Linked DNA regions of Homo sapiens. The protein of the gene in region 2 purifies or fractionates together with the protein of the main gene of each other region. This does not show direct contact. Each region holds a gene or a part of one and is shown on either strand. Other genes may lie near its edges. The genes, in order: ZDHHC8 and ATP8A2.

Region 1 (3,662 bases), on a different chromosome or scaffold from region 2:
AGCAAGACAGAGACGACGCGGACGTGGACTAGTGCAGCCGAGTTGTGGGGCCCCGTGCAGTCCCTGCCCTCTGGGCTTGGAGGGTTCACCTGGAAAGCAGGTGAGGGATGCAGAGCCTGCCTGGGGAGCAGCTGTGCTGTCACAGGACAGACAGATGTTGTCAGAACTGCCACCACCCTCCCGAGTCCCTGGGTCCCTCCTAGCCAGCACTGGCCACAGAGAGCATGGGGCAGCCAGGTGGGCACTGAATGGAGCCCCTGCCGTGCCCTGCACTGGGAGCCCAGCCACTCTGCCTGGCCTCATTCCTGCTCTCTCTCAGGAAAACGAGGGGCTGCCCTCCTGCCCACCAGCGCTGACCAACAGCAGCTGTATCTTTGCTACTTAAACCTTCTTGAGGCGAGAGCCCTTTGTCCCCGGGCTGCGATCCCTGCCTGGCTGCAATGCTGCCCACTTCTAGGTCTCGGGCTCCCCACTCATCACTCCCAGTGGCAGCCTCCTCCCCAACTCCACAAAAGCTGAACAGGTCCCACCCTGTGGGGTAGAGGAGACCCGCTCAGGGCTGGACTGCTGTGCCCTCAGCCCCTTTGTGGCCAAGTGGCCTGGGCTGGGCTGGGCTGGGCTCTCCCTCTGGGGCTGCATCTGCCGACGGGAAACAACTGCGCCTGTGCTTGAGGTTTCCAGGCCCGGACAGGGCGACAGATGCCGTGAGGACACCATGCGTCTGTGGCGTGGGTCCTGGCCCCAGCAGGTGTGCAGCTCTCCTACCTGGACCTGGGCCTGTGAGCCAGCTGACCCCGCCTTCTCAGTCACCAACCTGCCGGGTGCCTGGAGCCAGCCTGCTTTCTCCAGTCCTCAGCTTCCCCACCTACGAGCAGGGAAGCCCCTGCTTCCTAGAACTATGTCCTACAGGGAGGGCCAGGGCCCGGCCACTCAGGGTGGCACATTCTGCTGCTAGGTAATATCCTCAGCCCCAGCCTCCTAGAGATGCAGCCAAGCAGGCCCAGGGAGAGCCCTGGGTGGACAGGGCCACTGTGACCCAGGAAGCCAGAGCCACAGCCTAAAGGAGGCCCAGGCTGCCACATGATACTGGCCCCAAAGAGAAAGCCCCATGGCCTCCCACATGCTGGGTCTGTGCCAGCTCTAGAAGAACGAGTCGTCGGGCTCAGGACACAAATTCTCATACCCTGTCCCCAGAGCGTGCCCAGGACATCCTCAGAGCTGGGCCACACGGGCTAGCCAAGGCCTTCAAGGCAGGGTGAGGCGCATCCTCCCTGTCCCGTCCCCAGAGAAAAACTCAGGCCCCTGGGATGACCTATGAGTGCCCAGCCAAGAGGGGCCCTGGAGACGGCTGGACAGCTGCCCTGTGCCAGGAAGCCCACCCGCACCTCCCGGCACCCACCTCTGCACGGTCAGCGAGGGCGGTGGCTCTGGGAGGTCCGTGTGGATGAAGGCGACAGCTTTGGGGCCCGCGTAGGATGGTGAGTGGGGAGTGCCGGGCGGGGAGGGCAGGCCCTGGCGTGCAGGTGACCTGTGTGAGCCACTGCTGGGCCGGGGCCCCGGGGCGTTGCTGCTGGCCTGATCAGCCTGCAGGGAGGAGGACGACGTCCGCGGTGCACGGCTCACGGAGCTGGACAGCGAGGACAGTGACGTCTGCAGGGCAGGGTTGCGGGCGCCACCGAAGCCGGGCCCAGCCACAAGGTCGTCTCTGGAGCCATAGCGCAGCGCGGGACCTCGGGGGCCCTCGGACAGCACACTGGCCTGCTGCAGGCTGTAGGAGCTGGGAGCGTCATAGACGCCTGAGTCGCCGAAGAGTGAGTCGGCCTGGGAGCGCAGCAGGCGCTCACGCTCCTCCCTGTCCTTGCGCTCCTGGATGGATGCCATGATGGTCCTGGACAGGTTGTCGTAGCGCACAGGCGAGGGCTCCCGGGGGCGGGGGCCCAGCACGGGGCTGAAGCTGCGGGGTAGGGGCCGTGGCGGGTCGCCCGTTGCCCCAGGATGCAGGTAGGGTGAGTGGTATCCGGCCACGCCAACTGCTGGGTGGGCAGGGCAGGCGTGGCCACCAGGCGAGCCAGGATTGAGCAGGCTGTCATAGGACAGGCTGCCGTTGCGGTTGGGCAGTGCATGGGGGGCAAAAATGCTACGGTGGGGCGTGGGGGGCCCCCCCTCAGAGCGCAGGGGCTGCAGGGCCACATGATCCCCGCCCCGCCGGCTCGAGGCCTTGAGGCTCAGGGAGCGCAAAGCGCCCGAGAAGGCATCAGAGGCGCTGAGCGGTGGGGATGGCGGGTAGGCTGCATGCAGGCCCCCTGGCCCATAGTCAGGGAGGTCCAGGCTCGGCTCGGACACAAAGTCCAGGCTACGGATGCTGTCGTCCCCCAGGGTCAGGGAATCAGGGCCTGGAACCTGTAGGGAGAAGGCATTCTCACCACTGCCCACCTGCCACCCCGCCTGCAGCCGCCAGTCAGCACCCACGGGGGCCACACATGGCACCGTGGCCTCAGGAACTGGGCCTCAAGGAGCCATAAGAGCCACATAGTGACCCATGGCCCTGTCCCTGAGCATCCACGGCTGAGGGGCAGGGGCTCTGCAACAGGAGGGAGGCCACAGCTGGCTACTGCAGACACCTGGGGTTCTGCCCTTGGAGCCATGCAGCCCCAGGGGCCCACCACTCAGGGCAGCCAGAGGGAGGAGGAGCCTCGTCTAGCCCCTGTGACGGGCACATAGGCATGGGCTTGGGCTTGGGCTTGGGACAAGAGCCTCAGGAACCACAAAGCCAGAAGTGGATCAGGGCAAATGTGGGCTCAATGCACTTGGCCAACCAGACCCAATCCCCCACTGGACCCAGGAGTCCCAGGAAGATGACATACCCAGAGCCCTCATCTCCAAACAGGGATGCCTCCTCCTGCGAGGCACGGCCCCTACATGCCTGCAGACTCAGACCCTTGGCCAAGGAGGCTCAGACTCACTGCTTCACCCAGTGACTCTCTCCAGGAAAGACATCAGTCCTGAGGGGAGAGGTCCCTGGGGATGGGGCTGGTCTAGGTGCACAGGGCCCAGTCACAGGCCTGCCTCTCGGGGTGGCCCAGAAGGAAGGATGGCACCCTGGGACTGTTTGGTGTTCCTGATCACTGCACAGACCGCCCCGCACTGCCCACCATTCCAGTGACCACAGAGCACTCATGCAACTCAGGGAAGAGAAATGTGCTTTCTCAAGCACGTCTCAAATTCTTCCAAAGTCTTCCCGTGGGCCTTACAGAGTGACTAATGGTGGAATTCCAGGCATCCTGGTACACAGTGCTCCTGGGGGCAGCCGCCCACCTGGCCTAGGGCAATGCTGGCCAAGGGACAGACGCCAAGCCTGGATGGCCCACGCCAGCCCCTCCCAGGACACCCTGCTCCCCTCTGTGGGTCCCAGCTCTGGGTGCACACAGACAGGGTCCTACCAGTCACACAAGGCCCTTGGTGACCCAGGCAGAGCCCTGAGGGGCATGGCCTCAGGGGATGTGGCCTCTGCTGGAGAGATGGGGCTCTGGAGGTGGGGCCTTCACGGGGTGAAGGCTGTGGGGCGAGCTCCTAGAGGCGGGCCTGGGGGACGAGGCCTGCCAGGGGGCAGGCTAGGCCTCCTTACCTGCTCGCCTGGTCCACAGAAGGGCACCTTGGGACCC
Region 2 (3,810 bases):
GCCTGGGCCTCGGCTCTCCAGGCAGTGTATGTGTCCTTGAGCCTGCACATGCTGACAAACCCCTGTGTTACAGGCCGCAGTCCCTGTGGCAGTAAATGCTGATTAGTGGAAAAGAAAATTCCAAAATAAAACAGTCCAATCACTTACTTTAACAAAAGATTTATTTGAAACAGGTTTGCGCAGACATACACCAGTCAACAGGATTGATCAAAGCCACAAATCACTAAATTCTCCCAAAACTTCTAAAAATACAAGTAGATGCCCTCCGTTTGTATTCACTCCAGGAGGGAACCCAGTGCACTGTAATGTGCTGCTGTAATTTAACAACCAGAGGACATTAATAGGACGTGAAAACGGTAACACTTCTAGAGGGAGGCAACAAAAAACCCCACACACCATAGAAGCACCCCCCACGCTGCTGGGAGCCAATTAAACGTGCCCCCACAGCCCTGCTTCCCTCTGCATCACCAGATTAAAACCTCCCCATCACAAACAATATTTAAGCAATCCAGGCACAGATGTGACAGCAGACAGGAGAGCACGTGGCTTTGCTCGCATGAGAAAGACGCCACAAAGATGATGCATTTGAACGACAATTCAGTGACCGGCAGCCCCATCCTGCAGCTGGCCCTGCTGCAGCTGCCTGCGTGGCCCTTGAGAGGGAGGCTCAGAGGGAAGCGGCATTGCACAGGCCTGAACTTGGCCATCTCGGGCAACGGGGGAGAGTGGGGCGGGAGGGGAGAGTAGGAGTTTCAGTACTGACATTGATTTTATCCATGAAAACCCAAAAGTCTTTACTGTGCAGGGAAGGAGAGAAATTCCATGACAGGGCTGGTTTCCTTTTTTTCTTTTCTTCCTTTTTTTTTTTTTTTTTTTTTGTTGTTGTTGGTGTTTATTGATTCACCTATAAACCACATATCAGGCTATCTCTTAAGAATACAACAGACTCCAATCCCATTGGAAGTGAGTTCGCAGCCTGCTCTCTGGGCTCTCTCCCTCTTTCCGGCCTTTTCTCTTTCACACGGAAGAGCTTACCTATAAAAGGCTCTTGATAAGCTCTCTTGACCCCCAAGTTTCCTGGGCAGGGTTATTTGGATAGTGCTATTACTCCAACTTTCTTCTTCCTCTTTCTGTCATAAATCAAAGCCACCTGACACTTTGCGCCCGACTTTTAAAACAAACAGGTCTCCTTTCTTTCTTCAGCCAGGTCACAAGAACTGCCTATGGGCTAATCTTGAGAGCATGTTTTTCTTGGTCTGAGGCCTGGGAGAAAGAGCAGAGTGGATATCTCAAAGGCAACTAGAGCCCGAGATTGTCACTTGAAAATGCGCCAGCCTGGGTGTAAAAAGAATCCCTCTTTTGTCTCTCCTCAGTTGGGAGAGCCGAGGTGTTCCTCAGAGGTTAACACTGGATTATACACGGGGTGCGGCGCGGGGGAGCTCGCCCTTCTTTTCTGCTCCCATTTGTTTGTGGCTTCTGCCCATTCAGATTTATGCTGGCTCAATGCCCTTTTCTCCTCACTCAGGGTTACATCCCAGATTCACAAATCACTCATAGCCAACAAATTAAGAGAGCTTTAAACAGAACATTAGTTACAGACTGGGCATTAAATGAAGATCAGGTAAGGTGAAGGGGAATGTACTGATGGACAACTTGGGATGCTGAGAAAAAAAAATAAATGAAGGGTACAACACATCGAGCGTGCTGGTCTGTTAACACCTTTCAAGAATGCCTAATGATGTCATTATGGGGGTCTTGGGCCCTCACCTCCGAAACCCCTCAAAAACCCTTCTAATAGTCCTTCTTGGCCTTCAGGATGGAAAAATGGCTAGAATGAGGTTAAATCTCCCCGAAGGCTATACTGAGACAGTTAACTGCCTTGAGCCAATGAAGAACCAAAACCAAACCCAACTGATATAGATTTTCTTTTTTTGAAGGGAGGGGGTTTTAACTGTTCCCATTGTGATTATATATGCCCGTATAAACATTTACATGAAGAAAACATTTCTTGAGTGTAACAGGGGATGCCATGTTTTGACTCGACCTGATAAACTCATTTCTTTGCCAAGTTATTATTTCAGGCTCTGCTTAGCCACCATTTCCCTGTTCACATTTTTTTATGGATCCCAGGAGATGAAGACTACATTTCAAATGCTGATGTTAAATCACTCCTTGAATTACTTTGAGACGATGACCCTGGGCAGTAACTCAAACCCTGGCTGAAAAGTGTGCAGTCCTTTCACACGTTCAAAACTAAAGACCACCTTATCCTATAGCAGTGTTTTGCAAACATTCAATTCAGCTATGGTCTAAGACATAAATCCCTTGGAACAGAGGTACCTGATAAAAATGCTTTATGGTTCCAAATGACAAGATTAAAGGTCATTATTATAACAAATGGAAATTACAGACTATAACTTTCTTTTTAAAAAATTCAACCTTAAATCCTGTAATATTTACATACATATGCATTATAAGACATTAGTTACCTAGGCTCTTTCCACCCCCCCGCATTTTTCACTGCTTCTTGACAAGTTATTACTGATTTTCACAGCCAGCTCCCTATAGTGAGACGAACCTGAAGCCTTGTCAAGGGAAAGAAAATGTCAACAGAATTCTCAGCTGAGCTCTCCCAAAGCCCAGGTTCACTTCTCAGGATATTCCTCTACAAGTGTTAAAAGAAACAGCACTCCTCGCCCCAAAGCACGTTTTGTATGGTGTGCCGAACCAAAAGAGTTACCATGTTTTTGTTTTCATGTGTGCATGTGTGTGTTGGGAGATGGGTGAACATAACCCTGGTCAAGAAGCCTGGAATATTCTGCACTGAGGCAGGACAGACACATCAGCTCCACTCCTAAATTATGACCGAGCCCGTTCTGATCAGCACAGAGTATTCATCCAGACTACTCTGCTCTCCTGATACGTGTTTTCCACAGCTACCCTTGCTGGCACGTGTCAGTGTGCAGTGGAAACCCAGAACTAAGCCCACAGTACAACTGGTCTCTTCCTTTTGCAGGGTCATCCAGGAGAAGAGAGACTCAACACAGGACTGGGCTGTCTGTACACAGCAGTAGACCAAGGGTTGGCCTGAGTGGATTCTGCCAGTTTAGCTCAATCCAGAGTCAGGCCCTGGAGCGCTAACCGAGCGTGACCTGCCAGCCCGTGAGTCAGTGAGTGTCTGGCGGAGTGACAAGCCCCATGTGGCATTTTTGCTGAGCTGACAGCCAGCGTATGCAACCTAGTCCAGTCCACCCTGCCCCAGGGGAGGGGTTGTGTGTGACACTCTGACCTCAATTTAAAGATAGGACAAATGACACAGCCCCTGAGTTGGCCCTGGCTAAATATTATACATCACACGTAGTGACAGCTGCTCCTCCTAGAAACCAATTTACAGCCAATTTAGTCATTTGGCTGTAAGAATGCTCAACCACATGAGAGGATAGAAAGGCATCTCTTCTAATGTTTTCTTCTGTGTGCGTCTGTCATCACTGCAAATATTGTTTAGTCTACTTCTCAAGAGAATAGGAAAATACACCTGTATCCTTAAATCCCAGAAAATATGAACTCTAATGTAAGAAACAAAAACCCCAAACAAACACAAACACACACTTAAATACATAATTCTGATTTGGAAGGCTTCAAGTTCAAGACAGAGCTAACTGTTTGACAAAGAATTCAATTTCTAATCCACTCTTTCCAAATAGGCTTAGTTCCCAAATGAGACAAAATATGAATAGTTAAGATGCCTAATGCACATTCAATTCCAGTTTTCGTTTCTCCTCTGTATCTTGGCCATCACCTTTCTGGGTG

What was found.
Region 1: the proteins of ATP8A2 (region 2) and ZDHHC8 fractionate together in Homo sapiens (co-fractionation; one large-scale study listed by BioGRID). This does not show direct contact.

Annotation. Positions count from the first base shown.
Region 1 is NC_000022.11:20,141,494-20,145,155, reverse strand, and holds part of ZDHHC8 (palmitoyltransferase ZDHHC8), read right to left. Parts: coding exon 3,626-3,662; intron 2,401-3,625; coding exon 1,400-2,400; intron 1-1,399. UniProt on the Homo sapiens protein: Palmitoyltransferase that catalyzes the addition of palmitate onto various protein substrates and therefore functions in several unrelated biological processes.
Region 2 is NC_000013.11:26,022,185-26,025,994, reverse strand, and holds the end of ATP8A2 (phospholipid-transporting ATPase IB), read right to left. Parts: 3' UTR 144-3,810; downstream 1-143. UniProt on the Homo sapiens protein: Catalytic component of a P4-ATPase flippase complex which catalyzes the hydrolysis of ATP coupled to the transport of aminophospholipids from the outer to the inner leaflet of various membranes and ensures the maintenance of asymmetric distribution of phospholipids.